5 linked regions of the Homo sapiens genome follow. The protein of the gene in region 2 interacts with the protein of the main gene of each other region in a pairwise test. Each region holds a gene or a part of one and is shown on either strand. Other genes may lie near its edges. The genes, in order: CLEC3B, RPS6KB1, UNG, DPPA4 and KIR3DL1.

Region 1 (6,287 bases), on a different chromosome or scaffold from region 2:
AAACCAGGGGCTGGGCGCAGTCTCAACTGGGAAAGAAACCAGCTTTTTGAACTGTTTGGATTTTAAAAAATTATGTGTGTATATTACCTTCCACAAAATGTTCATTTAAAAAGAGAAGACAATACCGTGCATAGTTACGTCTATGAGCATTAGCCAAAATCGCCACCAAGGGAGAGCCTTTGTAAAAGATGCAGCTCCAAAGGCAAATCATAGAATTTTTGAATGTGGAAAACCATCGCCAGCTTCTCAAGTTTACCAAAGATTCAGTATTAATATAATTATGTAAATCTTTTTAAACTCATGTTAAAAAAAAAAGGGTCAGAGCACGTGATGCCTTGGTTCTCTCCAGCTGTCACACTTGAACCCTGGCCCTATGTGGTCTCCATAGAAGGGGCCCCTGGAGTTCCAGGGCTACAGGCCAACAGAACAGCCACCCAGGCCCTGCCTCTCGCTGAAACCCATGGCAGTCTCCCGCCCACCAACATGGCAGGCACTTATAGAGCTCTTTCTCCACGTAGGCACCAGTCTATATGCTGGACACACAGCAGAGAAACACCGTCTCTGCTCTTAAGACATGAACCATGGTGGTTCTCACTCAGGCATCAACATCATCTGGGAGATACATTAGAATCCAGGTGCCTTGGCCAGGCGTGGTGGCTCAAGCCTGTAATCTCAGCACTTTAGGAGGCCAAGGTGGGAGGATCGCTTGAGGCCAGGAGTTCAAGACAAGTCTGGCCAACATGGTGAAACCCTGTCTCTACTAAAAATACAAAAATTAGCTGAGTGTGATGGTGTACACGTGTAGTCCCAGCTACTCAGGAGGCTGAGGCAGGAGAATTGCTTGAACCTGGGAGGTGGAGGTTGCAATGGGCCGAGATTGCACCACTGCACTCCAGCCTGGGTGACAGAGTAAGTGAGACTCCGTCTCAAAAATAAATCAATAAATAAAATAAAAGTTAAGAATTCAGGTGCTTGGGCCCCACCCCTGGAAATGCTGGTTTAGGGATCTTGGTGAGTTTAGCATCTGCCTTTTCCACAGGTCTTCAGGGATTCCTAGGAGCAGCCAGGAATGAGAATCTCAGGGGCAATCTAGTTGCAGGGCTGGTGCCCAAAAGTACGGGAGAAAGTCCAAAGAAGGGACGGTCATGCCAGAGGAGACCAGTTGGTGCCAGGGCCAAGAGGGGGAGAGCAAGTGGCAGGACTGGCAAAGGAAGGGAATGCCAGCATATGCTAAGTCCTTGTCCTGGCCCTCAGGGTGGGTGAGAAGCGGGGAGCCTAGAGTACTTCTGGGAGCTCATCTGTTCTTGGGGCCACATGGTCACACCTGGCAGGGAAGCTCCGGAGGGAAGGATGGCCTCATAGGAGTCACAGGCCTTTAGAACAGGGAACTGGGGGAACCTGGAGGGCATCCATTCTAACATCACGCAGAAGGAACCTGAGGCTCAGAGAGTGGGCCAGCACAAAGGCCTCCTGACTCTGCCCAGGGCCGTAGAGACACCTACTCCCACAGCTTCCTCAGGTGGAGCTAATGAGAGTAGCTTCCTGTACCTTGGACAGTCCCTGGAGGAAACTTTGCACATATGGGCACCTTGGTGCAAATTACAAAAGGTACCTCCTCTAAACTGACAAATTATAGAAAGGCATCTCTTTTTCTGGTCTGACCCACTCTAGCCAGGGCAAGGCTTAGGAGACAAATGGGCCTTCATGTGTCCCTCAGCAGAATGCCCTTCTTCAGTGCCCCCTTGCACAGCCTCACATGGCACCCTATGCTGGTACATCACGTGACTGGGTACAGTGCTGCTATAACTGGTGGAGGCAGTCTCTGTGTGAGGCACACATGACCTCAGGCTGGTTTGCCAGCCCCAAACTCTCCCTTTTTTTGCCTTGCTCATCAGGGTGTTTTTGCTCCAGTTTGGTAAGTTACATCGCTAATTTCTATATACACAACCATGTGTCTTGCCTGTGATTCTTCTGCAAAGGCACCTTATGGGTGGACGAAGGCTCTGATCTCACTCTTTGTGAGTGTGGAATGTATGCAGACACAGCCAAATGGACCATTAAAGTGTTTCCCCACCCACTTCCCCAAGCTGAGTGCAGCCTTTCCTGAAGCCCTGGTGTTTCAGAAAGACCAGGGTCCGCCCCAGGAGCTCTAAACTTACACACACATAGAAATATGCTTCCCGGCACCCTCAACTTACACACACATAGAAATATGCTTCCCCGCCTTCCCCTGCTGACTCTTACATGACTGGCTGCCAGCAGGACAGCTCCTGTTAGGAATCCGTTTGTGTGCCATGGGGAAGGTGGGGAAGAGCATGGCTTCAGAGCCATGTGCACCTGGGTTCCAGGCCAGCCCTGCCAGCTGGGGCTCTGCCATCCTCGGCCAGTTGGTTTAGGGCAGCCTGGGTTTCCTCATGGTGAAATGCTGGTGGTACAGAATGACACGTTACCTGTGTCATAGGGTTGATTATGAGCATCACATGGGGTGACATGTAGAACGGCTTAGCCCAGAGCCTGGCCTCCTCTGTAAGAGTGGAAAACCTGGGTTCCTTCTGCCCTCATCTTATTAGTAGCTGTGATGGGCACACACTCAGCCAAGCACTGAGGTAGGCAGCTCTGCGTTTCAGTTCTCTTAGTCTTCTCCAGAGTCCTAGGAGGTGGGGCTGTCATCATCCACTTCATACATGAGGGAACCAAATCCAGAGAGGCTGAGCAGCTCGCCCAGGCCACCCGTGTCTGTGGCACCTCCAAGCCCTGCATATGCGTGCCCCAGGCTGGAGTGCCTGCTGGTCTGTGTCGCATTCCTCCAGCCTGGGGAAGTGAACCTGGGGGCTTCTTGAGGGCTCCTGCTGTGCTTCCTGTGCTGTTCTTCCCTGGAGCTGAAAAGGTAGCTGGGTGGTGGGGGATCACTGAAGCCTGTGCCTACACCCTCACCCCTGCCTCTGCTAATCCCAGCCCCATCTGATCCCCAGCAACAATCCCAAACAAATGCAGCACAGGAGCAAGTGAAGGATGGGCCCCCTGGCAGAAGTCACAAGTGGTTAATTAGACTACCACCAGCAAGGATAGAGAGAGAGAAAGTTTCCCAAGATATCAAGGTTGAGGGGAGTCTTTTCCTCTCATCCCTCTGCAGCTAAGGTAGGATCCTTCCTGCTCAGTCCCTGCCCCACCCTGACATATTTCCTCCTGCTTCAGATGTTGTGAACACAAAGATGTTTGAGGAGCTCAAGAGCCGTCTGGACACCCTGGCCCAGGAGGTGGCCCTGCTGAAGGAGCAGCAGGCCCTGCAGACGGGTGAGTGCAGGCAGTAGCCTCTCTGGGCAGGAGCGTCTGAGAGAAGGGCCCAGGCCAGCAGCCAGCAATGCTCTTCTCGCCTCCGTTCAGCATCAGGGTCCTGGCTCCATTAGTCCAGGCCTATGGGTGAAGGCACCAGGTTCAGGGAGCCCCACCTCTTTCTCTTGGGGAGATCCCCTGACACGTGTCTGCAAAACTCACCTGGATGTGTACGGCCAAATCTCTGGCCACAGCTGGGTGGTGTGGAAGTGGGGATGTCCCAAGAGGACAAAAAATTCTCCAACAAGAATCCACTACTGCCCACCAGAAGTGACCCTGGAGCGCTCGATGGGGCAGAGGTAGTGGCCCACCCTAGCAAAGCTCCCAGGAGCCCCTCACTCAGCTGGCCTCTGCAGCCCCAGAGAGCTCCACACTCCTGTGTGTCAGCAGCTTTGCTGACCCTGTCTCTCTTAATCGTAACTCTGCTGAGGTGGGATTTGTCAGCTCCATTTTAAAGATGAGCTGTCAGCTCCATGAAATGTCAGCTCCATTTTAAAGATGTGTCAGCAGCAACTGAGGCATAGACAGGTCCTGAACCTGGCTCATACTCACCTCGTTGGTTAGTTGACTCGTGGAAGAGCAAGAGTTGAATGGAGGCAGGCTGCCCAGTGCCAAGCTGGGCCTTGGTGTTCCTGGCTCTGCACTAGCCAGCTGAGGGAGGGTGCACAGAATCACCAAGAACAGGGCCCAGGCGCATGGTAAGGTCATGCCCTCTGGCCAGCATACCTGGCAGCCTATTGTTTCTCACTCCCCATGTTCCTGTCATATAGTCTGCATTTTCCACATACCTCCGATTTACCTACCTTTATATGACCTCACCTTCCATTCTATGGAGAACACAGACTCACAATACTGATGACTATTTACATGTGAGCCCACTACATTCTGGCACTGTTCTTGATGCTTGATGCAGACTCACAATACTGATGACTATTTACATGTGAGCCCACTACATTCTGGCACTGTTCTTGATGCTTGATGCACGTTAACTCATTCACAGCACACCCGTGCAGTGGTCCTGTTACTACATCCTCACCCTTATTTTCCACCGAGAAGGACCTTGTGACAGCCGAAAGGAGCAGAGCCTCACTTAGCTCTGCTATGCTGCCCCTCGAGTTATCAGCTGGGAAATCACCTTGACTCCTCAGCAAATCTATAAACCACCCTGTGTCCACAGCCACTCTCTTACCTGTTGCTTTTGTGACCAAGGCCCATCCATCTGCAAGGCCTTCCCTTCCCCGCCTGCCTCCTCAGAAACCCCCAACAGCCTTCTCACCGGATGGTTTTACACACTCCCTCCCATTCATATGCTTTCCTTCAGCATTCACACTGCCATCCTTCTGCACTCCCACCACAGGGCCTTTGCATGTGCTGTTTGGGCAACCTGAATTGCTCCCCCAAGATCCACCTAATAAATGCCTCCAGCATTATCTTCTCAGGAGTCACTAATCCCTCATCTCAATCAGCTCCTCAGTTATAAGCTCTCCCAGAACAGTGTCCTTTCTTTTATCACACTGACTGCAGTCTGTAATGATACACTCATTTCCTGATTTGTGTCTGCTGCCTCCACTAGACTATAGTAAGCCCTGAGAACACAAGGGCCATGTTTGCTTTTCATTGCCCTTGTCTCTTCCACTACCCTGCCCAGCATAGTGCCTGCCACATAGCAACACTCAGTCAATCTCTGTTGAAGGAAGGACAAACATGTAACTTTGGACAGCTTGCTTGGCATGGCAGGTAGGAAGAGAGTGCTCGAGAAAGGGAGCATCTCCAGAGGTGTTTTTGACTTCATGTAATAGGAAACCTATCAGTGGCTTAAACAAAAAGTAAGTCTGCAAGTAGGTAGTTATAAGTTTTTGTTCAGAAGTTTCACCTCATGGTCTTCAGATGGCTGCCCCAACTCCAGGCATCATGAGTGCATTCAAGGCAAGAAGGAGGAAGAGTAGCCCAACCACATCTGTCTCATTTATAGGGAACGTAGTCTTCCACTTCCATCTCATTGACAAGAAATCTATCATATGGCCACCTGCAGCTTTAAGAACATCTGAGAATGCAAGAATGTAGCTTTTCCAGCCTCTATAGTGGAGGTGGACAAGAGAGAAGGGATTTGGAGGCAACAGTGCCTGGCACAGCGGGTATGTTTAGAATGAGCCCAGTGCCACTCTGAGCCTCAGTTTCCTCATCTGTAAGGTAGGCAGGGTAAACTCTAAGGTCTCTCTCATGTCTAAGCTCTGTGCTGTGCAAAGTCAATGTAACCCAGGCATCAACTGCCACCTGGGGTGAGGTAATGAGGTGGGGACCTCCCTGAAAAAAGTTCATGACATATGGAGGCCCAAAGCATGACATATGAAAGCCCCCATGTCTGCTGATTTCTAGGAAGCTGCTGGGCTTCTTGGGGCCTTCTCCTGTTCATTGTCCTCACAACCCAAAGATCACCTTTTCAATAAACCCACCCAAAGCATTGCAGAGCTCTGTTGACCTAACCAGAGTTGAAGGAATCAGGGGGCAACCTTTCCCTCCTCCAACCAGCATACACATGGGAGGTTCCCACCTGGTACATCTCTGCCAGGCACAAGGAGGCAGAGGTGATGCAGCCAGGGCCCTGCTCCCTGGGAACCTCAATATATTCATGGAATCACTTGAGCCCTTGAAAGCTGTGTAGGAATCAGAGAAGATAAAGAGGGTTGATTCCAAGCAGATGGCAGGGCAGGAGCAGAGGTGTGGAGGACTAGCATAAATCGACAGGATCATGAATAGACCAGAGCAACAAAATGTTGGCAGCAATGATAGTATCACGAGAAGTAGCATTGACTGAGGACTACCTATGTGTTGGAGGGAGGTTCAGGTGAGGGTCCTAGGAAGCAACTCTGAGATGGAGTTTAACCCACAGGAGACTTATCAGGAGATACCCTCAGGATCAACCCCTGTGCTAGGGAAGGGATGGAAGGAAGCAG
Region 2 (6,287 bases):
CTGAGGTCAGGAGTTCCAGACCAGACTGACCAACACGGTGAAACCCTGTCTCTACTAAAAATACAAAAATTAGCCGGGCGTGGTGGCGGGTGCCTGTAATCCCAGCTACTTGAGAGGCTGAGGCGGAAGAATCGCTTGAACCTGGGAGACTGAGGTTGCAGTGAGCCAAGATCGCACCACTGCACTCTAGCCTGGGTGACAGGGCAAGACCCTGTCTCAAAAAAAAAAAATTTAAAAAAAGAATATGAAAAGAAAGTCTTTAAACAAATCTGTACTTCGCCTTCAAAAATTGAAGACTTTTTTGTTCAATATTTATATATGACTCTTTATTCAAAATATACATTAAATTCTATCTAGTTAAATCCTAGTCATTGAATCTTGTAGTGTCAGTGACCATTTAAGAACCTTACCTTTTTAAGCAGATCTCTGGCTTCTTGTGTGAGGTAGGGAGGCAAATTGAGTTTACATTTGAGGATTTTGTCAATTGTTTTCTTTCTATTCTCCCCAGTGAATGGGGGCTAAGAGTAGAAGACAAGTGAAAAATATTAGCAGGGAGAGAAAAATATTAGCATATAAGAAACAAATTTTGAATAATATTATCCATTTCCTAAATTAGTTATACATGGAGATCAGAAATGTATGCTGTGAAATGGGCTAACTGCTAAAGACCTTTATTTTGTTTTACAGACAGGGTCTCAACTATGTTGTCAAGGCTAGATTCTATTAATAATCCTTAGCTCAAATGATCCTCCCACCTCAGCCTCCTGAGTAGCTTAGGCTACAGGCATGCACCACTGTGGCCGGCAGACGTGCAGTTTTTAAGCAACAGGACAGAGGAAGTAGCAGTGTCCTGGAAGGAAGCCTGTGTTTCCACCATTAACTTTCTGTGTGATAAGTGAGCTATGTGATTTTATGCTTCAATTTCTCCATTTATAAAATAAGGGCATTATCTATTCAACATCTATTTCACAGGCCTGCCATGACATAGATCATTTAAAAGAAAATGTTTCGGAAAGTATGGGATCCCATATAATCATACAGCATTATTAGTGTTAAACTGCTAATAACAAATCTTTGGGCTTTGAAAACTCCACTGGTAACATGTTCAGAAAGCACAGGACAGGTCTCTTGCTATAGTGACTCAGCACAGACCAATAATACATGCAGCTTTTAACTGTGCACCTACTGCTCCAGTCAGCATGTCATACATTAATGCTCCCAAACTCCACCAATCCACAGCACGATTGTGGCCACTTCTCATCAAGATTTCAGGGGCCCTACAATGAGGAAAATAATATGCTTAAAAATTCACCCATTTGCATATCATCTGAATTAGAATTTTAAAAACAATATACAGAGTCAATGAGGGTACAGAAAACAGATACTATTCCTTAAAACAGGTAAAATTAGCTATTACCCCCAAACCAATTATGTTTAACATGTAGCTCACATGTATTCTATTGTTCCACAAAATGTGTGTGTGACTGTTCCATCATGAATAGATTCTTTGCATAGTCCAAAGTCTGTTAGTTTCACATGACCTACAATGAAAGATTACAGCATGATTATTCTCCGAATTATAAGTATGTGCAGTGTTTGAACATGTCACATAATACTTTAATCTATCCTTCCATTTAACTTTTCTTGCCTCAAATTTTCTTGCAGATGTCAAGAACAAGGTACCATCCATAAAATGGGATGCTAACTGTTTAAGGCTAGGGCAAAGTCACCTTTTGCCAATGATACAATCTATCTAGTAAAGAGAAAATAAAGATAGAGAAAAAAGTGAAATAACCTGTTTAAGGCTCTAGCTTTAAGTATATACAAAATTCTCTACCATCCTGAAAAAGAAAAATCCTGGGAAAACTGTTTTATGAAGTCTAGTTTACGTACACAGACCCCAATAAACATACTCTGTACCTTTTGAACAAAGGTGTGAGACAGTACTTCAAATATATAGCTTTTATCACAGTGAACTGTGAAGAGTCCTTAAAATGGTCTCAGAAACTCATTATAACAAGGTAGCTCATTCTGCCCAATGCTACCAATTAGGGGAAAGAAAGAAAATTGCTAGATAGTATGAATCAATCATCACTGATCCAGAAAGTAAAAAACTTACCACCTTACACAAAGATCATTTCAGTTCAAGTTTAGCTTTCTTTACTGGACTGTCATAACAAGTGGTTCAACAATCTCAGGGACTCTAGTATTTGAGGTTCATTTCACAGAAAAGGCACAATGACCTATTGATTCAAATGTAAATATATACTACACTCTGATACAGAAGAAGTATGGCCTTTATTTTCACAGAACCATCTGATACACTCAACCTTATAAATCAAAGAAGTTAACTATTCTATCGCTCCCCTATTCTATCCTGTGACTTATAATTCAGATCAGAATCCACGTTTTGGGGAGTGAGGAGGTGTTGATGAGAGGAAGGAAGAGACACTGATTCCCATGATATATTCAGTTAAGTATATCATTTCTCCTTAAAAAAAAAAAAAAGGTGGGTGGAGGAGTATAATCTGGAATGTTTATATGAGCCTCAGTTGTTCATACATCATTTTCTAAGAGTTTGAAACAATTAACTACCTCATGGATTATTCTGTAGACATCTAAGGATTAGCAGCTGCTACCACCTTCTAGATACCCTGGGTCAGCTGGTTGCTCCTTTGGGGTACGAGTGAATTGCCAAGTCTACCTACAGCCCAGATTAGCATAAATTGAGCTGTCTTTAGCAGCATGCAGTTGTAGTCAAGGCTCACTGTGCTATATCTATAGTTGTATAGATTATCAGTCTCTCTGATGTTTATGTTTGTTGTTACAAACAAACAGCAAGAATAAACTGATTCTGGCTGGGGGGAAGGTGGGTTATGCCTGTAATCCCAGCAATTTGGGAGGCCAAGGCAGGCAGATCAATTGAGCTCAGGAGTTTGAGACCACCCTGGGCAACATGATGAAACCCCATTTCTACAAAAAATACCAAAAATTAGTCAGGCGTGGTGGTGTGCCACAGTGGCCCCAGCTACTTGAGGGGCCGGGGTGGAAGGATCACTTGAGCCTGGGAGGCGGAGGTTGCAGTGAGCTGTAATCATGCCACCATACTCTAGCCTGGATGACAGAGTGAGACCCCCATCTCAAAAAAAAAAAAAAAAAAGTAACCTGATGCCTACTAAACATCATATTTCCAAAGTTTTATCAAATACTTTGGTTCAATTTCAATCCTTTTCCCAGCATTAATAAAACCTACTGTAAGAAGCATAGCTTCTAATATTCACATATTTTCTTTTTTTTTGAGACGGAGTCTCGCTCTTTTCACTCAGGCTGGAGTATAATGTCGCGATCTTGGCTCACTGCAACTTTCGCCTCCTGGGTTCAGGCGATTCTCCCACCTCAGCCTCCTGAGTAGCTGGGATTACAGGCACCCACCATCATGCCCAGCTAATTTTTTTTTTTTTTTGTATTTTTGTAGAGATGGGGTTTCACCATGTTGGCCAGGCGTCTTGAACTCCTGACCTCAGGTGATCCACCCACCTTAGCCTCCCAAAGTGCTGGGATTACAGGTGTCAGCCACTGTGCCCAGCCAATATTTACATATTTTCATTATTAAAACTCAACTTATATAATTGAGATTCACTTTTCAATTTAAGTAACAAGCCAAAATTAATGTTTAGACTGGCTTTTACAGTCTAAAACATTATACAACATTTGATGTAAAGATTCCAAAAACATGAAAAACTATAAAGAGTAAGGATTAAACTAAAAAAGGCAGTTGAGCGACTATTATCCTCAACTTCTTTTACTCTCACCAAGCGTAATTACCTAAAGACTTAAAATATCAGCAAGTACTATGATGCCATGAATTCTGAGGGAGGAAATATACAAAATAGAGAGATGAATTTGGGGCTTTGAAAATGGCCACGACCTATGTGGGAGGATTTTAAGATGATTATTTACTATAGAATTGTTTACGGTATGTCTCCACCTTGGTGATTAAGCATGATATTCTCCGGCTTCAGGTCTCTGTAGATGATCCCCTTTTGATGTAAATGCCCCAAAGCCATGGAGATTTCTGCCAAGTAAAAGCTGGAAACAAAAGTGATTTAATAAAATTAAAAAGAGTGTAATCTATCCAAAGCAGTTTACGTATGGAGCAAAATTCCTTGAAAGAAACAGACATGCACCAAAGACCAAATTAGTGGGGTAGGGGGATGTATTGGAAAAAGAGATGGCATAGGATGCTGCCAAAAGGCATGGGGACATTTATGTTTCACTCATTTTAGTGAAACTATAAAGTGCTTTATTTTGCCATTAGAATATATTGCTAAAATTGCAAAGATGTCCAGAATATGCTAAACTGCCATTGGTCATGTTTTGTTCTGTCTGTGTAGGAATTAAGCTAATAGCCATTCATTTCAAGCAAATTTCTCCCATCCACACCCAACTTTAAAATCCCATAGGAAATAGGAACTTTGTTATTCTCAGAGATCACATCTTGATTTCAAAAGGTATCTTATAACCTGACCCTTAGAAGCCCACTCATCCCTTACTTAATACAGCTACATATTTATAGACAGCTGAGGCCCACAGTATCTGCCCTCCCACCTGCCAGCCAGCCCACAACTATAAACTGTGTGACACCCAAATTTATCTACCTCAAAAGAATAAAGGGCTGAATCAACCCTGTCTGGATTCGAAAAGCACAAGGCACTGCAATACTGGCTGCATAACAATGTTGCAATCCTGCAGATTACTCCAGGATGGAGAGGGTGTGTCCTAGAGGACTGAGGCAGTTTCACAGCCAGCACGACCACAAACACAGCCTCCAACACGGCTCAGTGAGCCTCCTCCAAAAAAGGGCACTTCATCCCTAAGGCTCTTAAATGCAGCTTCTTTGTTAGAAAAGGCCTGAAATTAAACAATGGAATGCAGTTTTGGTAATCAAGGTAGAAAAAAACATTTAAGTGTTGTTTTCTATTAAATTAATGTGTAGGATAAACTGATTTATTGTGACCCAATATTGTTGCTTCACAAAAGGATGTGCATATTTTTAATTTGAAGCAGATGACATGTTTAGAAATAGGAGGGTAAATCCCACCCTGACTACATAATCAATCTACAGATGATATGCCCAGGTTTATCACCTCCCTAAGACTGTACCTTGAGAAATAGAAAGCCTAAAAAAAAAGGGATGATTTCTGATAATTTCCATTGTTCCACACATAAAGGTTCACTGGGAAACCACACTCACCCACAGCCAAGGCAGGCAGCTTACCAATTCAAGGAAAGAAAGCCGCAATGAGAATGGTTCTGTTAGGAACAACTGGTGTGAAGAGCGTTCCACTCAAGCCTAAGGGCAAAGGAATGATGTGACCTCCATAGCTGCCCAGTCCCAAAACTGCTTCTCCCCCTTGAGGTCCTGAGTGAGTGACTGGCTCCAGCTCAATTTACTGAATCATGTGGCTGCCCATAGTGGGAATGGGGCTTTGCTTGTAATTACCTGAATCTATGCAACCACAAAAAGTTCACTTACCAGGCAGTGTCTTCCATAAATATTCCCTCTCTTTCTAACTGCATAAATAGTTCTCCTCCTGTAAAGAAAAAGAAAAAACATTATAAATAAAACAATATTTATTTCCAACCCACTTCTAATGAGAGAGTTTGTGCTTTCCTTCTAACCATAATTAAAAGACATCAGCCCCTTAAAAATGAAAAACAGATCCTAAAAATTATAGGTTTTAAAACTAAGTCCTCAGGATTCTATTTTTAGTAGCATTCTTATTCTTCTGTGACACACATATATTTAAAAACTAGAACTGGCTTGGAATTCCAGGTTTTATATCTACAAACTTTAAAATATCTGTAGATTCCAGACCTGAGGTTAAAAAATATATATATTGATTAAAGACTCTTTAACATTTTACCCATAGGTAGAAAAATGATAGTCTACAATTAAATCACCCTCACTAATTTTAGTGAATGCTCATATTTCGTATTTTCAGAACCCTTAAATAAACAGAATAAACCTGGCACTGGCCTAGTAAAAAACATGGCACAATTTGAGTATCAAAATAAATAATGATAATAAAAGGTTATATCACATTGAATGATATTAGGATCCCTAAGTCCACAATGACATAAATAAATGAATACATAAATGTTTTAAAGGGGGAAGAAGAGAAAGTTCTTTATTACAGTAGAATCCCAAGTAATAAATGAAGAAGACGTGACGGAATAAGAAAAAGTACTTGGCAAACATCACAATTAATTGTTGCAGGCAAGAT
Region 3 (6,287 bases), on a different chromosome or scaffold from region 2:
ACATGCTCAGAACACCTACATTAGCCTACAGCTGGGCAAAACAAAGCTTCTTTTACAATGAAGTGTTTAGTACCTCATGTAACTCATTGAACACTGTACTGAAAGTGAAAAATAGAACGGGGCCAGTCACGGTGGCTTACACCTGTAATCCCAGTGCTTTGGGAGGCCAAGGTAGGACAACTGCATGGGACCAAGAGTTTACAACCAACTGAGGCAACATAGCGAGACCCCATCTCTACAAAAAAATTAAAAAGTTAGCCAAGTGTGATGGCATGCACCTGCAGTCCTAGCTACACAGAAGACTGAGGTGGCAGGATCACTTGAGCCCAGGAGTTCGAGGCTGCAAAAAGCTATAATTGTGCCACTGCACTCCAGCCTGGGTGACAGAGCAAGATCTTTTTTTTTAATTTTTTATTTTTTGAGATGGGGTCTTACTCTGTCACCCAGGCTAGAGTGTAGTGGCATGACTGTGGCCCACTGTAGCCTCCACCTCCTAGGCTCAAGTTACTCTCCCACCTCAGCCTCCTGAGTACCTGGGACCACAGGTGCGTGCCACTACACCAGGCTAATTTTTTGTGTTTTTTAGAGACAAGGTCTCACTATGTTGCCCAGGCTGTTCTCAAACCCCTGAGCTCAAGTGATCCGCCACCCTGGCCTCTCAAAGTGTTGGGATTACAGGCGTGAGCCACTGCTCCCAGCCAAGAGACCCTGTCTCTTAAAGAAAGAAAAAAAAACAACGTGTGAGTGCTCAAAGTATGGTTATACACCATTGTAAAGTCGAAAAAAATCAGGTCAAACTTCATAAGCCAGGGACCAGTTGTACCTACACAAATAGGTACATATAAAGGGACTGACACACTGCTTATGTCAGCTAAAACCTAGTATACAATTCAGTGTTACAGAACTGGCTAAATGTATTTTTCTAAAGTTCTTACAATGTAAAACCACATAACTCCTAGAAAAACATGCGAAAGATAAATATACTGATGAGATGACCTCCAAAATTTACCAAGTGAACAAAATGCAAAATAATTTCATTTTTTAAAAACTTTAGAAAAATACCCAAGACACTGTATTTAGTAGTTCCTTTAAGAGAAAGAGTGGAAGCCATTTACTTTCCATTTTGTGCCTTTCTGAACTCTCTGAATAGTCTTACAGCTCCTAAGAAGGAAGAATTAAAAAACAAAAACAAAAACAAAAAAATCTCGCCACAAAAATGGAATAGTTGGCCGGGCGTGGTGGCTCACACCTGTAATCCCAGCACTTTGGGAGGCTGAGGTAGGTGGATCACCTGAGGTCAGGAGTTCAAGACCAGCCTGACCAACATGAAGAAACTCCGTCTCTACTAAAAATACAAAATTAGCTGGATGTGGTGGTACATGCCTGTAATCCCAGCTACTCAGGAGGCTGAGGCAGGAGAATCACTTGAACCCAGGAGGGGGAGGCTGCAGTGAACTGAGATCACGCCATTGCACTCCAGCCTGGGCAACAAGAGTGAAACTGTCTCAGAAAAAAAAAAAAAAAAAAAAAAAAGAGGAATAGTCAGTGGCCAGGTGTGGTAGCTCACGCCTGTAATCCCAGCACTTTGGGAGGCCGAGGCAGGAGGATCGTTTAAGTCCAGGAGTTCAAGAGCCAGCCTGGGCAACGTGGTGAAACCCTGTCTCCACAAAAAAAAATACAAAAATTAGCCAGGTGTGGTGGCGCACGCCTGTGGTCCCTGCTACTCAGGTGACTAAGGTGGGAGGATTGCTTGAGCCTGGGAGGTTGAGGCCGCAGTGAGTTGAGATCAAGCCAGTGCATTCCAGCCTGGGTGACAGAGCTAGACCCTGTTTCAAAAGAAAAAAAGCAATAGTCATACATCACCTAATGACAGGGATGCATTCTGAGAAGTGTGTTGTTAGGCAATTTCACTGCTATCCGTACACCACAGGGCATCTTTACACAAACCCAAATGGGATAACCTACCACTACACACCTAGGCTATATAGTGTAGCTTATTGCTCCTGGTCTACAAACCTGTGTAGCATGTTACTGTACTAAATACTATAGGCAACTGTGACACAATGGTAGGCATTTGTGTATCTAAACATAGAAAAGATGCAGTAAAAATATTTTTTATATATATATATATACACATATATATATACGTATATATATATGTGTATATATATATATGTTTTTTTTTTGAGATAGAGTCTCACTCTGTTGCCAGGCTGGAGTGCAGTGGCATGATCTCAGCTAACTGCAACCTCTGCCTCCCAAGTAGCTGGGACTACAGGCACACGCCGCCACACCTGGCTAATTTTTTGTATTTTAGTAGAGACAGGGTTTCACTATGTTGCCCAGGCTGGTCTCAAACTCCTGAGCTCAGACAATCCACTCGCCTCGGCCACCCAAAGTGCTGGGATAACAGGTATGAGCCACCACACCCGGCCAGAATATTATAATCTTATGGGACCATCGTCATATATACAGTTTATGACTGAAACATCATTATGTGGCAAATGACTACTTTGATTTTTTTAAAATATCAACTATAGTTATTTTAACAGGGAGATATAGACCATTTTTGTTTTCCTCTTCTTTTCTGTATATAAAAACTAACGAACAAATCACTGTTTCTCAAAACACTCTTGCCTTCAAGGGGCTCAGTCCAGGAGGGGCGATGAGGGGTGAGGACTAAAGCCAGGCAATCCAGTGTGGTTAAGAGTACAGAGCCTGGAGCCAGACTGCCCGGGGTCGAGGCCTACCTCTACCCTCAGTAGCTGTACCACAGAGAAGTTGCTGCAACTCTAAGCTGCTTCAGTTTTCATCTGTAGACTGGGAATAACAATACCGCCCAGCTTATGAAGTTACTGTGACCAATCAAATGAGGATCACAGGGGCTGAGTGTGATAAGAAGTCATGCACACCAAATGCTGAACACACACGCAAGCAGCACAGGCCCCTGTAAATGTCAGCCCTGCAGAGCTCTAAAGAATCCCAGAAGAAAATGACCTCTACACTGTAGGCAGAGAAAGCAGGATATGCAAAGGCAGGGAAGTGGGGCACCGTGAAAAAGTAAAGGGGAATGGGTCAGCCTAGGGATCGGAGTGCAAAGAGGGATAGAGTTAAGTCTGGGAGGCCGATTGGGGGCCACCCCTCTACCCCCCTGAAATCAGATCTTCAGCCTAAGGCAAGGCCTTCCAGGGAGAAAGCATCAGAACCCTCCAGGCAAGATCAGGTGAGGGCCTGAATGAAGGCAAAGGTGGTCAGGCAGGGGTAGATTTGGAGGGGGAAGAAAGAACACAGATATGAATGACTGACTGACTGGGAAGGTGGAAAAAAAGGACAGAAGAGGGGAGAAAGAGAGGTAGGCAGGTGTCAGTAATAGATCTGGCTGGACAACTGGGCAGATGATGGTGCTTTTTGCTGCTAGGGAGTGCAGAGGAGGAAGTTTAGTGAAGCATGGATGAGAAAAGGAGAAACTTCGTTTGGAAAATGTTGAATTTGGCATGTTCATGGGGCAGTAGTAACAAGGCACTCTATAGATCAGAAGAGACACTGGGCTGGAGATATGCAATTTGGCTTTAATGACCAAGCTACTTTAACAACTGTTTACTTTCAGACCAAACCATGATTAAAGATTACCAATATACTGCGGAAGAGCAACACTGGCCGTAAACCTCCCTAAGGGATAGAGATTAGCAATTACTCTCACGCACACTTCTTACATACCTAGATGATCACATCTTAGCAGTTCATACCAGTCAGATCTTAGGTCACTCATACAAGTGTATGCCTACCTCAAAGCCTTTCTGAGAGTTAAGTAAGATTCTGCATGCAAAGTACTCAACCTGGTCGGGTGCGGTGGCTTACATCTGTAATCCTAGCACTTTGGGAGACCAAGATGGGAGGATCGCTTGAGGTCAGGAGTTCAAGACCAGCCTTGTCAACATGGTGAAACCCAGTCTCTACTAAAAATAAAAAATATTAGCTGGGTGTGGTGGCAGGCAACTGTAATCCTAGCTACTCAGGAGGCTGAGGCAGGAGAAGTGCTTGAACCCAGGAGGCGAAGTTGCAGTGAGCCGAGATCATGCCACTGCACTCCAGCCTGGGTGACAGAAAGACTCCATCTCAAAAAACAAAAGTGCTCAACCTAGTACCCACACAAGGTAGGGGTTAAATATACGTGCACATTTCTGATACCCCCGTTACCTCCTGCTGATACACCAAAAACTATTGTCAGGTTACCTCTGCTAAGCCCTTGCCTTCGATCATTGAAGCATTTACTCTATAATTTCTCCCCCACCCAATGTCTCTCCCATTTGCCAGGGATGAACACACCCCTGGCTCGTCTCCTTCCCACCCCCTATCTCTCCCTCCTCCACTCTGCGGCTCTCCATCAAGCCTCCATCTCTAGTCCATCACGGTTCTCCTGGAGAAAGATGATGGTGACTCATGCCTGAAGGGCAGCAGTGGCGAATGAGAAGCAGTAGACTGGGGTGTTTTGGGAGGCAGAGTTGATGGGATTTACTGATGGGATGGAGGATTCAAGGATGACTTTTAGGTCTCTGATTTCCACAACCAGGTGTAGAAGTGCTTCAGTGAGTGAAGGGAAAGAGGGAGGTAGCAGATAGGGGGAAGATGTAGGGAGGGGAGCCACTGGTTTGGTCGTGTTGGGTATCTGCAATTAGACCTTGGGGTTAATAATGATCACCGATAGGCCGGGTGTGGTGGCTCATGCCTGTAATCCTAGCACTTTGGAGGTTGAGGAGGACAGATCGCTTGAGGTCAGGAGTTCAAAACCAGCCTGGCCAACATGGTGAAACCCTGTCTCTACTAAAAAATAAAAAAAAATCAGCCGGGTGTGGTGGCGGGCGCCTGTAGTCCCAGCTACTCGGGAGGCTGAGGCAGAATCACTTAAACCCAGCAGGCGGAGGTTGCAGTGAGCCAAAATCATACCACTGCACTACAGCCTGGGCAACAGAGCGAGACTCCATCAAAAAACAAAAAACCCAGAAACAAAACAATAATGATCACTGATAGTATTTTCATGGGCAAGTTAAATTTGTGATTGAGTGGAATTCTTTGTGTTTTCTATATGTTCCCAAATTTCTTGGAAGCCAGAAACATGCCTCATCCATCACTTGTTAAGTGAATGGTACCCAGGGACTTGTATCTTGTAGACACCAAGTTCATGCCTACAGCACCAACTGCATTCAGTCACAAGTTGGCCAGTTGCTTTGCTTTCCTCATACACAACTCATCACCCCTATAATTTGTCCAAATTCTTCTCAGTTTTCAATGGGAAACCCTTATAACAGGCCTAAGGGAAAATAAAAGTTATTTTATAACATGGATTTTCCAGGACCAAACACAGCAGGGACTCCTAGAATTCTTTACATTGTTTTTATAGTGTTAAAAAAAAAAGAAAAAAAAGAAAGAAAACAAAACATACCCTATCAATGGCACTGCCCTTCTTCTGAGCATAAGAGCCCCAGAGCAAGAAAACAAGGCCATTCGAGTTCTGATTTAGCCAGGACACAACTGCATCAGTGAACTGCTCCCAGCCTCGCTCCTTATGAGAGTTGGCTTGATGGGCACGAACCGTGAGGACAGCGTTGAGAAGGAGAACACCTATACACATGAGAGAAACAGGTTAAATGTAGGCTCAGGCAAATCAGCCCAATACCCAGCAACAGGAGCTAAATCCATGATGAAACCAATGCTTGATGGGATCCAGTGTAGCAAGCTGTGCTTCCCTGCTGCAGCCGGCATAATGGCAGCAGCCACTACCATCAACAATGGAGTCGGGGCTGGGCGTGGTGGCTTATGCCTGTAATCCCAGCACTTTGGGAAGCCGAGTCGGGCGGATCACCTGAGGTCAGGAGTTCGAGACCAGCCTGGCCAACATGGTGAAACCCTGTCTCTACTAAAAATACATTAAAAAATTAGCCAGCTATGGTGGCTCATGCCTGTGGTCCCAGCTACTCAGGAGGCTGAGGCATGAGAATCGCCTGAACCTGGGAGGCAGAGGTTGCAGTAAGCTGAGATTGCACCACTGCACTCTAGCCTGGGCAACAGAGTGAGACTCGGTCTCAAAAAAAAAAAAAAAAAAAAAATCTAGCAGTCGCTGGCTTACCTTGCTTGGCCCACCCAGATAAATCTCCATGGCCAGGATGAACAAAATCCTCTATGTCTGTAGACAACTCTTTATAAATGTTCTCCAAACTGAAAGCAAGCCACAAGAAAAACAAAAAACAGAATCTTAAGCATAATTTTGAAAGCTCAGTAACGTCTAAGAC
Region 4 (4,207 bases), on a different chromosome or scaffold from region 2:
CTGTACCTAGCTACTCAGGAGGCTGAGGCAGGAGAATCATTTGAACCCAGGAGGCGGAGATTGCACTGAACTGAGATTGCACCACTGCACTCCAGCCTGGGCAACAGTGAGACACTGTCTCAAAATACAACAAAAAAAAGCTGCTGCTGAAGTCATGTCTATTTTAGAAAAGTAGTATGAATGAGTTTTTCTACATATTAACTACAATTTATGGTAATTTGTGAAATGTTTTTCCATTTTTAAATGTAAGAGTCTCTATCTCCACTCACAAAGCAACAGGCACTGCTAGGGGTCTTAGGCTAACATCTGCCACCCCACCAGTCTGCATGGCCCATAAACAGGTGCAGAGGACCAGAGTTCACCTGTCAGCAGCACCGCAGAATCCAACTCTCCAGCTTTTCTGCCATTAATTACCATAGATGTGGCCTTTTTCCTGATATTCTATTCCCATTGGAGGCTTTTTATTAAGACCTTGTTCCTATAAAGCAAATAAAGTATTTGTTTTTAAAAAGAATGAAGAAATATTAAAAATAGCCAAGAAACCCGCTGCTGGAATGCTGTTGAAATTGCCCTTACAACTTTAGGATCATAGGTAGCAAGCCTGTGATCCTGTCATTCAAGAATGAAGATCATCAGCCAAGTTATCATGCCTCTGTAATATATTCCCTGACTTGTGCCAACCATGGACAGGAGGCCTTGGAGGGGCTCTTTTCATCACTTTCCCAAAAACCTAAGTATGTCATTAAAGGACTACCCAAAGTGACCTCCTCAGTTCTCTTCAACTTGCTTGGCATAGAGAGATTATCAAAACACTCACAGCAAAAAGTAGGATATCCCAAAGAAGGAAAAGCCAATCACACATTCACATACTTCCTCCTGTGGGAGATGGTCTTGCTACGTTTCCCAGGCTGAGAAATTACCGATCTCTCCTTTCCATCTAGTCGATTCTTCCCTTAACTTAAGGAACCTCTTCTTTGATATTCATCATGTTATTCTAGGTGTTTACATGCCCACCATCCCTGTTAAGACTGTAGGCTACTTAAAGGAAGAGGTTTTTTGCTAGTCATTATTTCTGTGTAGAGCATACACTTTGAATATAGTAATTATATAATGTTTGTTGCTCCCAGAATTCTGTGTCTCCAGGTAGAAGCATTAAACCCTGACACATAAATGCTTTCTTTTTCCTGGGGATAAACTTAACTGAGTAATAATTTTCTTGAAACTCTTTACTGACAATTTGAGCTTGAAATACCTGGCTATTTAAGATTAATGTATATCTTAACTTTCTGCAATTGAAAATCCGGCACCCACTTTTAGTTTGTAGAAAAGCATCAGGTAATTACCTGTGAACACATTTGGGGCACAACATATTGTCTTCAAGGTGCGGGGGTGGAAAATTGGAGGCAGGAAGCAAGAAGAGTGCACTCACTCTCCCTTCTTGCTTTTCTGGAACCCAGGCTTGACCAGCATGAAACTGCAGGTGAACCCAACCATCTGTGTCTGCAGGGAGACTTTTCCCATGGACCACACACCACCTGACACCTGGCAATGGCAAAGGAAAGAGACAGGTACCCGCACACCAGGATGACATACTGATGTAAGACTGCATTATGGCCCATCACCCTTGATTGACCAGCTCCAAGATGTGAACCCTGAAATCCTAACTTAACCTCTTCTCTATTCTGTTCTCCTTTAGAAAAGCATACAAGCTGGGCGCAGTGGCTCACGCTTGTAATCCCAGCACTTTGGGAGGCCGAGGCGGGTGGATCACGAGGTCAGGAGATCGAGACCATCCTGGCTAACACAGTGAAACCCCGTTTCTACTAAAAATACAAAAAATTAGCCAGGCGTGGTGGCGGGGGCCTGTAGTCCCAGCTACTCAGGAGGCTGAGGCAGGAGAATGGCGTGAACCCGGGAGGCGGTGCTTGCAGTGAGCCAAGATTGCACCACTGCACTCCAGCCTGGGTGACAGAGCGAGACTCCATATCAAAAGCAAAACAAAACAAAAAGCATACAAGACAGTTCCTGTTAAAACTTAAAAATCTAGTTGGAAGTAGTATAGTTGTAGGTGGGCAGATGGTAGAAAGACTAACCCAGAGTGTCTGGAAAGGGCTTCATGAAATAAGCTCAGGGGTCTCAGCTCTTAACACACATTGGATTATGCTAAGCAGTTTGTCTTCTTTTGTTGTACTTTCTGTAATTCTTCCAACATATAAGGTAGGTATTACCCATTTTACAATGAAAACGCTGGGAAATATTTTAAATAACTTATTAATGCCATTCTGGGGCTCAGTTGCAGGCAATTAATTTTAGACCTTGCCTTTAATTTAAATTGCTTAAAGGGTAAAGAAAGAAAACCAGACTGCTATCCCCTTCTGATGCCATCAATAATTTAGAGCAGTGGTTCTCAAACTGTGGTCCCCAGACCAGCATCCTTAGTACTGCCTGGGAAACTGTTAGAGATGCAAACTCTTGCCAGGTACGGTGGCTCACGCCTGTAATCCCAGCACTTTGGGAGGCCAAGGTGGGAGGATCATCTGAGGTCGGGAGTTCGAGACCAGCCTGACCAACATGGAGAAACCCCATCTCTACTAAAAAGACAACATTAGCCGGGCATGGTGGCACATGCCTGTAATCCCAGCTACTCAGGAAGGCTGAGGCAGGAGAATTGCTTGAACCTGGGAGGTGGAGGTTGCGGTGAGCTGAGATCGCGCCACTGCACTCTAGCCTGGGCAACAAGGGAGAAACTGTCTCAAAAAAAAAAAAAAAAAAAAAAAAAAAAAAAGGAAAAAAAAAAAAGAAATGCAAATAAATGCTCAGGTCCTGCCCTAGACCTGCACCAGAAACTCTGTGGGCAGGGTCCAGGAATCACCGGCCCTCAAAGGGATTTTGATATACCCTAAAATGTACCAGTGATTAATATCTACTAAGCTTATTTCCCCATTGGACCAGAATAAGCTCTTCATGTTGCGCTTACCAGAGGCCTCTTGTGGAGATTCCACTGCCTCTGGTGTCCTCGCCCTGGCTGAAATTCTCGCCCAGGAGGCCAGCAAAGCCTCTGGGGCAGAAGTTGTCACCACAACTGTATTAACTCCCTCAAGGAGAGCAGTGGAATTTTCCAGGGCAGGCGGCTCCCCCACAGGAGGAAGAGCCACTTCAGGAGGATGTGTCTCAGAACTTTGCAGGGACGTTTCCCCCTTTTCCACCTTTAATTTTTTTTGCAATGATTTCCGGATTTTGGCCTCTTTTGCTGTGCTAGGAAAATCCTACAAAAAGGGTTAAATAATAAAGATAAAAATACAGATTAAAATTCTAACAAAAATGGCCTAAGGAGCTCTTGATCAAATACAAAGTTTCACTTAGGAGGACTAGGTTCAAGAGATCTATTGTACAAGTTGGTAACTATACATAGTTAATAACAATGTACTGTCTTCTTGAAAATTGCTCAGTTGGCCACCCAGTGGCTCAGGTCTGTAATCCCAGCACTTTGGGAGGCCAAGGTGGGTGAAACACTTGAGGTCAGGAGTTCGAGACCAGCCTGGCCAACATGGTGAAATCCCGTCTCTACTAAAAATACAAAAATTATCCAGGCATGGTGGCTCATGCTTGTAATCTCAGCTACTCCAGGGGCTGAGACAGGGGCATCACTTGAACCAGGGAGGCAGAGGTTGCAGCCTGAACTGCAGCCTAAGTGACAGAGGGAGACTCTGTCTCAAAAAAAAAAAAAAAAAAAAAAAAGAAAGAAAAGAAAAGAAAAGAAATGAAAAGAAAAAAATAGAAAAAAAGAAAATTGCTGGCCAGGCACAGTGGTTCACGCCTGTAATCCCAGCACTTTGGGAGGCCGAAGTGGGTGGATCACCTGAGGCAGGCGCCTGTAATCCGAGCTACTCTGGAGGCTGAGGCAGGAGAATTGCTTGAACCCGGGAAGTGAAGGTTGCAGTGAGCCGAGATGGTGCCACTGCACTCCAGCCTGGGTGACAGTGCAAGACTCTGTCTCAAAAAAAAAAAAAAAAAAAAAAAAGAAAGAAAGAAAGAAAAAAAAGAGAAGTAGAGATGGGAAATATTGTTCTTTCTTAGAACTAGGGGTGGAGGAACAAGGTGAGGCTAAGACAGTTCCTTTACTCACTTTTGAGGCTACAATAGGTAATTAGGATAAGCATTGAAACGTCCATCCTTTAAAAAGTTACCTTTTGATTTGGGTAGGCAA
Region 5 (7,050 bases), on a different chromosome or scaffold from region 2:
GGTTCTGATTTTGGGGCTTTTCTCTCCTCCTTTCCATCATTCTCTCCATTCTGCCCTCTTTTCTTTCTTTTTATGTGTCTGTGAATCTCTTAATCTCCTTCTTCTGGCTCATTTTGTGTGTGTTTATGTCTTTGCTTTTTGGTGTCCCTGATTTTTCTCTGTGTCTCTCAGCGATCCTATCATATGTGGGATTATTTGGAATATGAGCCTCAGAATCCAGTCTGGGGACCCCAAGTTCACACAGCATACAGGGGTTGGTGTTCAGGGGCCATGATATCCTGGGATGATTACTCTCCATTGCATGGAAGGCAGAGGTGTCAGAATAAACACGGCATCTGTAGGTGGCACAAGGCCTGAGGCCACAGGGCCCAACTCAGGTCAGAAATATGGGTGTCCTTGGGTTCTTCTGGTAGGAACACTTTGTGGAGGTAAAACAGAAATGAAACTTCTAACCTGTGCCAGGTCTCTGAGCAAAGTCAGCATGGAAGGACACCTCTCTCTGGGACATGTCTGTCTGTCTGAGTGTCTCCTTTACCTCTTTCTCTCTTTTCTACCTCCCTGTATGGCCCCTGTGTCTGTCCTCTGTTATGACACCTGTTCTGTACTTATGTCTCCTGTTTCTCTGTCTCTGTTGGTACAGACCTCACCAAGTCACTCTCTTTCCATAAGAATCCCACACTTATCTTCCTCATGACCACCTGGGGGTTCCAAGTCCTGGATCATTCACTCTGTGTCCCAGTGACAATGAGAACAATGTCTAGACACTCTCACCTGTGACCACGATGTCCAGGGGATCACTGGGAGCTGACAACTGATAGGGGGTGTGAGTAACAGAACCGTAGCATCTGTAGGTCCCTGCAAGGGCAAGCATCATGGGACCGATGGAGAAATTGGCCTTGGAGACCCCATCATGGATCTGTCCAACGAGGCGTGAGGGGTCCTTAGAGATCCCCTCTTTGTGCAGAAAGAAGTGCTCAAACATGATATCTGACCAACATTGCAGGATGACTCTCTCTCCTGATTTCACCAGGGGACCTGGGTGGGCCAGGAGGGAAGGTTTTCTGTGGTTTCCTAGAAAGAGAAGTTGTGAGTTTAGAAGGCATCTCTCTTTATCATCCCATCCATGGCACCTGGAATGAGTGAGGGTTCCCCTCCCCGTGTCTGTCTCTCTCCTCCCTCTCTGCATCTCCGTGTCTTTTCTGTGCCCATATCCCCTGGTGCAGGTGCCTCCATCTGTCTTCCTCCCTCTTCTCTGTCCCTCTGTCTCCAGTAGCCCCTGACTCCCTTGCCACTGTGAAGACAGCCTCATCTCTTGGGCTGTTGTATCTGTTTCCCACTAATCTCTTTCCTGCTGTCTATGTGGGGGTGGAAGAGGACAGGCTGCATGTCCAGGCTCTTAGCAGCCTGAATCAATCTCTTTTGAACAAATCCCCAGTTCAAGTGATTCTCTTGCCTCAGCCTCCCCAGTCGTTGGATTACTCGTGCCCACCACCACATCTGGCTATCCTTGTTTGGTTTCCTAACTTGTCCTTGACCTGGGTTCCTGTGTTGGTTTCCTGTTGCTGCTGCAGAAAATTACCACAAACATGGCAGCGGGAGAGAACACACTGACCCCTTCCACTTCTGGAGACAGAAATTGGATCCAGTTCTCCCTGTGCTGAAATCAAGGTGTCTACAGGGCTGCGTTCCCTCTGGAGAATCAGCGAATCAGTTCTCTTGACTTCTCCAGCCCTTAGAGGCCACCTGCATTCTGTGACTAGTGGTCTTCCTCCACCTTCAAAGCCCGCAGTGGCTGATAGCGTCTCCCTCCCACTACACTGCTCTAATCCCCACTCCCCTCTTCCTCCACCTCTCATGTGGACCCTTGTGATTACACTGAGCCCAGTGGGACAGTCCAGGCTGTCTCCCCATCTCAAGGTCAACTCATCAACAACCTGAGCTCCACCTTCCCCTTCAGTCCCCTGCCCTGTAACATAAATAGTCACAGGCTCCAGGGATTACAATGTAGCCATCATTGGGGACAGTGATTCTTCCCACCACAGCACCCATTTCCCCTGTATTCAATCTCCCTTGACCCCAAATACAGTCAGGGCCTGGGTGATGGGACCCTGACGGACACCCCCACCAGAAGCTCTGGGATTCAGGAGGTGGGACAGTGAGAAGCCCAGACGGAAAGCCTCTGACCTGTGACCATGATCACCACGGGGTTGCTGGGTGCCGACCACCCAGTGGGGGAGTGTGGGTGTGAACCCCGACATGTGTAGTTCCCTGCATGTGCTGTGGTCACAGGGCTCATGTTGAAGCTCTCCTGGAATATTCTGCCATGGAAGATGGGAATGTGGATTCTGTCTTCTTTGTATAGCATGAAATTGTTAAACCTATGACGATAGTGACACCGAAGAGTCACGTGTCCTCCTCGAGGCACCACAGCGCTGGGCCAGGCAGACAGGAAGGGTTTGTCCTGACCACCTGGGGGAGAAGGAGGCACTGCCTTAGAGAGGAGGATGTGGAGCCGCCCCTCACTCCCAGTGCCCAGAAGATTCTCCCCATTTCCACTTTCTAAGGCTCCTACCACACCTGGGTGCCCAGGGCTACAGGAAGGACCCATCCTGCATAGACTTGGCGTCTCCCTACAACAAGTGTCAGCTGAGAACTTTGAGCAAGTTGCTGGAGAAGCAACTCTTACTAGATTTTAATACTGCAAAATTACTCATATAAAACAACACAAAGTAGACACGGCATGGAGGGCAAGTCCTATGTGAATGGAATATCAGCCAATTGATGAACTGAGCCCCCATCAGAGGATTTGGAATGTCAGGGCCATGGCTGTGGTTTCCTCACCTTTTCTGGTAGAAAGACCGCAGCCACACTGCAGCCCCTACCATCACGGAAACGCTGGAGGGTGTGAGTTACACCTTTGTCCTCAGAGGACCTGCTGTTCCTAGCACTGCTTCCCTCTCTTTCTCTGCTGCTGACACCACTTCCTCCCTGCACACCCATCTTGGAGCACCCTAGTCTCACCCCAGTCTTCACAGAGCTTGACTCAGGAAAGGGAATGAAAGGCCGGGGAAGGCAAGGTCAGAAATGTGGGCCGAGCATCCGAGGGTCCCCTCTTCCTAGTGTATGAGAGACTCCCCGACAGGACTTCCCTCCCATTTCAGGAAAATCCTCTTATGTGGGGAGATGACACCCTAAGGTTTGGGGAAGGACTCACCCATGTGTGGACCGGCCCTCTGGACCAAGAACAACCCTAGAAAGAAAGATCATGATGGACCATCCCTCTGCAGGCAAACCAGGGCACCCTGCTGCCCCCACTGGGCTGTGCGTCTTGGCAGCCAGGCCCTTGCTGGGCTGAAGGTAAACTCACCCTCGCTGCCTACCTGCCCCCAGGAACAAGGATCTCGGCTGTGCAGAGACTGAGCCTCCAGGCCCAGATCTCTACCTCCAGGCCTAGATCTACACAACAGGCCCAGATCTCCACTCCAGGTCCGTATCTCCACTCCAGGCCCATATCTCCTCTCCAGGCTGGTAAGTCCACTCCAGGCCCATATCTCCACTCCAGGCTCCTATCTCAACTCCAGGCTCATATATCCACTCCAGGCTCATATCTCCACTCCAGGCCCATATTTCCACTCCAGGCTTCTATCTCCTCTCCAGGCCCATATCTCCTTTCCAGGCTTGTATGTCTGCTCCAGGCCCGTATCTCCACCCCAGGCCCATATCTCCACTCCAGGATCATATCTCCACTCCAGGCCCAGATCTCCACTTCATGCCCTTAACTCCACCTCCGGGCCCATAACTCCACCTCTAGGCCCATATCTCCACTCCAGGCCCATATCTCCACTTCAGGCCCATATCTCTACTGCAGGCCCATAACTCCACCTCCAGGCCCATATCTCCACTCCAGGCCCATCGCTCCACTTCTAGGCCCATCACTCCACCTCTAGGCCCACATCTCCCCTCCAGGCCCATATCTCCCCTCCAGGCCCATCTCTCCACCCCAGGCACATATCTCCACCCCAGGCCCATATCTCCACTCCAGGCCCAGATCTCCACTCCAGGCACATATCTCCACCCCAGGCCCCTATCTCCACTCCAGGCCCAGATCTCCACTCCAGGCCCAGATCTCCACTTCAGGCCCATAACTCCACCTCTAGGCCCATAACTCCACCTCTAGGCCCATATCTTTACCTCCAGGTCCAGATCTCCATCCCCGCACTCCCTCCCTCGATTCCCTTCCAGGACTCACCAACACACGCCATGCTGACGACCATGAGCGACATGGTGCTGCCGGTGCAGACAGGCGGCTGCGCCCCAGCTCAGCTCAGCAGCGCACAGGATGTTATTTGGCGCCCTGCCCATGCAGTTTACATGTTGACCACATCATGGGAGGGTGACGTACGCAGGCTCTTTCTACCTTGCATGAGGCCCAGTGGGTGCTCGCTCAAGAGCGGAACATGGCTTCCTGGAAATTGCTCTCACTAGAATTGACACCTCGCGTCCTTCACTATGACCAACTCAAAACACGTCTCAGATCCAACCTCCCGAACACGAGATGCCTAAAATCTGTGCTAACATGAAAGACTTTTCATGTATTTTTATTGTTTTTATCTGAGATTCAAACTCTTCTTCCTGTGTAATATGCAAAATATCTAATAGGTATTATTAAGGTTTTCAGAGCAATTGTGACAATAAACCATTAGAATTTTTCATGATTGTATTTCTAGTATTACAGCAGAACCAGTTCAAATGATTTAAACTCCCAGGGAAGGATTATGCAATTATTTACAATCTTAGAATTGTACTTTATCAGCAAAAATCACAACATGTAAATTCTGGATTTTTGTAGATTTATCTAGAATTTGTCTCATGTCCCAAGATTCCAGAGTTCCAACTCATGGTTTGCTCTCTCTCTGTCTCTCTGCCTCCCTCATTTTAAATTTTACAGAAATATCCAGTAACATAATGCTATAGAAAATCAATTTCCCCAGCACTTTGGAAGCCGAGGTGAGTGATCAACCGAGGTCAGGAGTTTGAGACCAGCCTGGCCAATATAGTGAAACCATGTCTCTGCTAAAAATACAAAAATTAGCCATGCCTGGTAGCAGGCACTTGTAATGCCAGCTATTCAAGAGGCTGAGGCACGGAATCCCTTGAACCTGGGAGGCGGAAGTTGCAGTGAGCCGAGATCGTGCCACTGCACTCCAGCCTGGGCAACAGAGCGAGACTCTGCCTCAAGAAAAATAAAAAAAGCATAGCAAATAGCCTATAATAAATAACTAGAGGACTCCAGCTACCAAATTTTAGGGGTTGTATAAGGCTGCATAAAATGCAGCATTCTCAAGAGAGTGGACAGAGAGAGAGCCACTGAGCAGAAAACAGTGTCTAAAATACATCCGTGTACACACAGTCCCTTTATAGTTGACAAAGGCTGCCATGTGGTTTAAGGTGGAATAGAATGTCTTCTCAATAAATAACATGGGCCCAAGGGTTACACATAGAGAAAAATATATCTAAACGTATTCTCACACTATAAAACACTTGTTTATTTTATCTTGTTATTGTAATTTTTTTATGTTTTATATTTAAAATTGAGAAATAAAAATTATATACAGTCATCCCTCACTATTCGTGGGTGATTGGTTTCAGGATCTCCACTCAGATAGCACAATCTGCAGACGCTCAAGCCTCTTACATGAAATGGCACAGCATTTGCAAATAACCCATGCACATCCTCCTGTGTACATGAAATCATCCCTTGATTATTTATAATTCCTGATACAGCCTACACACAGCTTCATTTGTGTCCATTCAACATAGTTTTGCTTTTTGAAACTTTGTGGATTTTTTCTCTGAATATTTTTGATTTATATTTGGTTCAATAAACACCTGTAAATCCCACAGATACAGAGGACCGACTGTATATTTATAGTATGAAAGATGATGTGTTGATATGTGTCCCCGTGGAGATGAGACTAACAAGGCCTATGACTCTACAAATGTTTCATCATGGAATGACTCTGCCAGCTTTCCAGGTCTGCAGAGAGTAAGAATATCACTTGTTCATGTGATTCACGATCCTTGGAACCTCTTATGTGCTGCATCTTTGGATGGAAATTGGAGTCTCAGAGACAAATCAGGCTCCACCCTGCTTCCAGAAGCTCCAAGTCCAGGGGTGAGAACCCAGTGGAGAACAGTTGGAGTTATTTGGACATGGTAATGATAACACTGGAAACTTTCAGCCAAAAAAAGAGTCACCTAAAGAATGAAGGCAGACATGTTTATTTGAAGAGGAGAGAACTACACTGAAATCAAAAAAATTTTATAAGGTTTGCTGATGCCAGAAGGCTGAAAAATAGTCTGAGGAAAGGTGGAACAGCACGAGGGAAGGTGGAACAGCACGTGTCTAAGTGCCGTGTTAAGAGAGAGCCTCTTGTATGTTTGGAATTGTGAGTTCCTCAGTGTGATTGCAGCCTCAAGTAGACTAGGAAGTAAGCCAGTTAGGTTGGAGAGGTGGGCAGGGGTCAAGTGAAATAGAGAATTGTGGGCTAAGCAAAGGAGTGTGTTTTCTCTGCAGCAGGCAGTGGGGACCTTAGACATTGGTAAGCAAGAGACAGGCACCAGATTTGTGGTGTGAGGAAGAGTGATGCTCTAAGATGGAGACTCACGCCTTCAGATTCCAGCTGCTGGTACATTAGAGCTGGCAAGCTGGGTTTGAGACAGGGCTGTTGTCTCCCTAGAAGATCCCATCAAGGCCTGACTGTGGTGCTCATGGGCAGGAGACAACGCTCTGGGCTCAGCATTTGGAAGTTCTATACACACGCTGGTATCTGTTGAGGGTCTCTTGCTCCTCTGAGAAGGGCCAGTGATTTTTCTCTGTGTGAAAATGCAGTGATCCAACTGTGCGTATGTCACCTCCTGAGGGTCTTGTTCATCAGAGTCCTGGAGAGAGGGAAATCCTGAGTGAGGGAGGGTGTTCACATTTTTCAGGACTATTTCGGAATAAGACTGTATCCATGAGGCTGGGCTAGGAGGACCTACCTCCCTGTT

Evidence for each region.
Region 1: the proteins of RPS6KB1 (region 2) and CLEC3B interact in a two-hybrid assay, tested with the Homo sapiens proteins (one large-scale study listed by BioGRID and IntAct).
Region 3: the proteins of RPS6KB1 (region 2) and UNG interact in binary tests that used the Homo sapiens proteins (3 or more experiments, as listed by UniProt).
Region 4: the proteins of RPS6KB1 (region 2) and DPPA4 interact in a two-hybrid assay, tested with the Homo sapiens proteins (one large-scale study listed by BioGRID and IntAct).
Region 5: the proteins of RPS6KB1 (region 2) and KIR3DL1 interact in a two-hybrid assay, tested with the Homo sapiens proteins (one large-scale study listed by BioGRID and IntAct).

The regions. Positions count from the first base shown.
Region 1 is NC_000003.12:45,027,632-45,033,918, forward strand, and holds part of CLEC3B (tetranectin), read left to right. Parts: intron 1-2,511; exon of another isoform or gene 2,512-2,606; intron 2,607-3,195; coding exon 3,196-3,294; intron 3,295-6,287. UniProt on the Homo sapiens protein: Tetranectin binds to plasminogen and to isolated kringle 4. May be involved in the packaging of molecules destined for exocytosis. Plays a role in retinal function.
Region 2 is NC_000017.11:59,929,424-59,935,710, reverse strand, and holds part of RPS6KB1 (ribosomal protein S6 kinase beta-1), read right to left. Parts: intron 5,595-6,287; coding exon 5,537-5,594; intron 5,354-5,536; coding exon of another isoform or gene 5,317-5,353; exon of another isoform or gene 5,279-5,316; intron 4,912-5,278; coding exon of another isoform or gene 4,839-4,911; exon of another isoform or gene 4,659-4,838; intron 4,090-4,658; coding exon 3,989-4,089; intron 1,542-3,988; coding exon 1,451-1,541; intron 1,278-1,450; coding exon 1,187-1,277; exon of another isoform or gene 1,183-1,186; intron 519-1,182; coding exon 411-518; intron 1-410. UniProt on the Homo sapiens protein: Serine/threonine-protein kinase that acts downstream of mTOR signaling in response to growth factors and nutrients to promote cell proliferation, cell growth and cell cycle progression.
Region 3 is NC_000012.12:109,102,765-109,109,051, reverse strand, and holds part of UNG (uracil-DNA glycosylase), read right to left. Parts: intron 6,214-6,287; coding exon 6,125-6,213; intron 5,620-6,124; coding exon 5,441-5,619; intron 1-5,440. UniProt on the Homo sapiens protein: Uracil-DNA glycosylase that hydrolyzes the N-glycosidic bond between uracil and deoxyribose in single- and double-stranded DNA (ssDNA and dsDNA) to release a free uracil residue and form an abasic (apurinic/apyrimidinic; AP) site.
Region 4 is NC_000003.12:109,327,547-109,331,753, forward strand, and holds part of DPPA4 (developmental pluripotency-associated protein 4), read right to left. Parts: coding exon 4,188-4,207; intron 3,267-4,187; coding exon 2,978-3,266; intron 1,543-2,977; coding exon 1,344-1,542; intron 479-1,343; coding exon 442-478; 3' UTR 1-441. UniProt on the Homo sapiens protein: May be involved in the maintenance of active epigenetic status of target genes. May inhibit differentiation of embryonic cells into a primitive ectoderm lineage.
Region 5 is NC_000019.10:54,813,734-54,820,783, reverse strand, and holds the start of KIR3DL1 (killer cell immunoglobulin-like receptor 3DL1 isoform 1 precursor), read right to left. Parts: upstream 4,317-7,050; 5' UTR 4,284-4,316; coding exon 4,250-4,283; intron 3,251-4,249; coding exon 3,215-3,250; intron 2,470-3,214; coding exon 2,185-2,469; intron 1,072-2,184; coding exon 772-1,071; intron 1-771. Other genes in the region: KIR2DL4 (killer cell immunoglobulin-like receptor 2DL4 isoform c precursor), read right to left, coding at 6,673-6,942, 7,042-7,050. UniProt on the Homo sapiens protein: Receptor on natural killer (NK) cells for HLA Bw4 allele. Inhibits the activity of NK cells thus preventing cell lysis.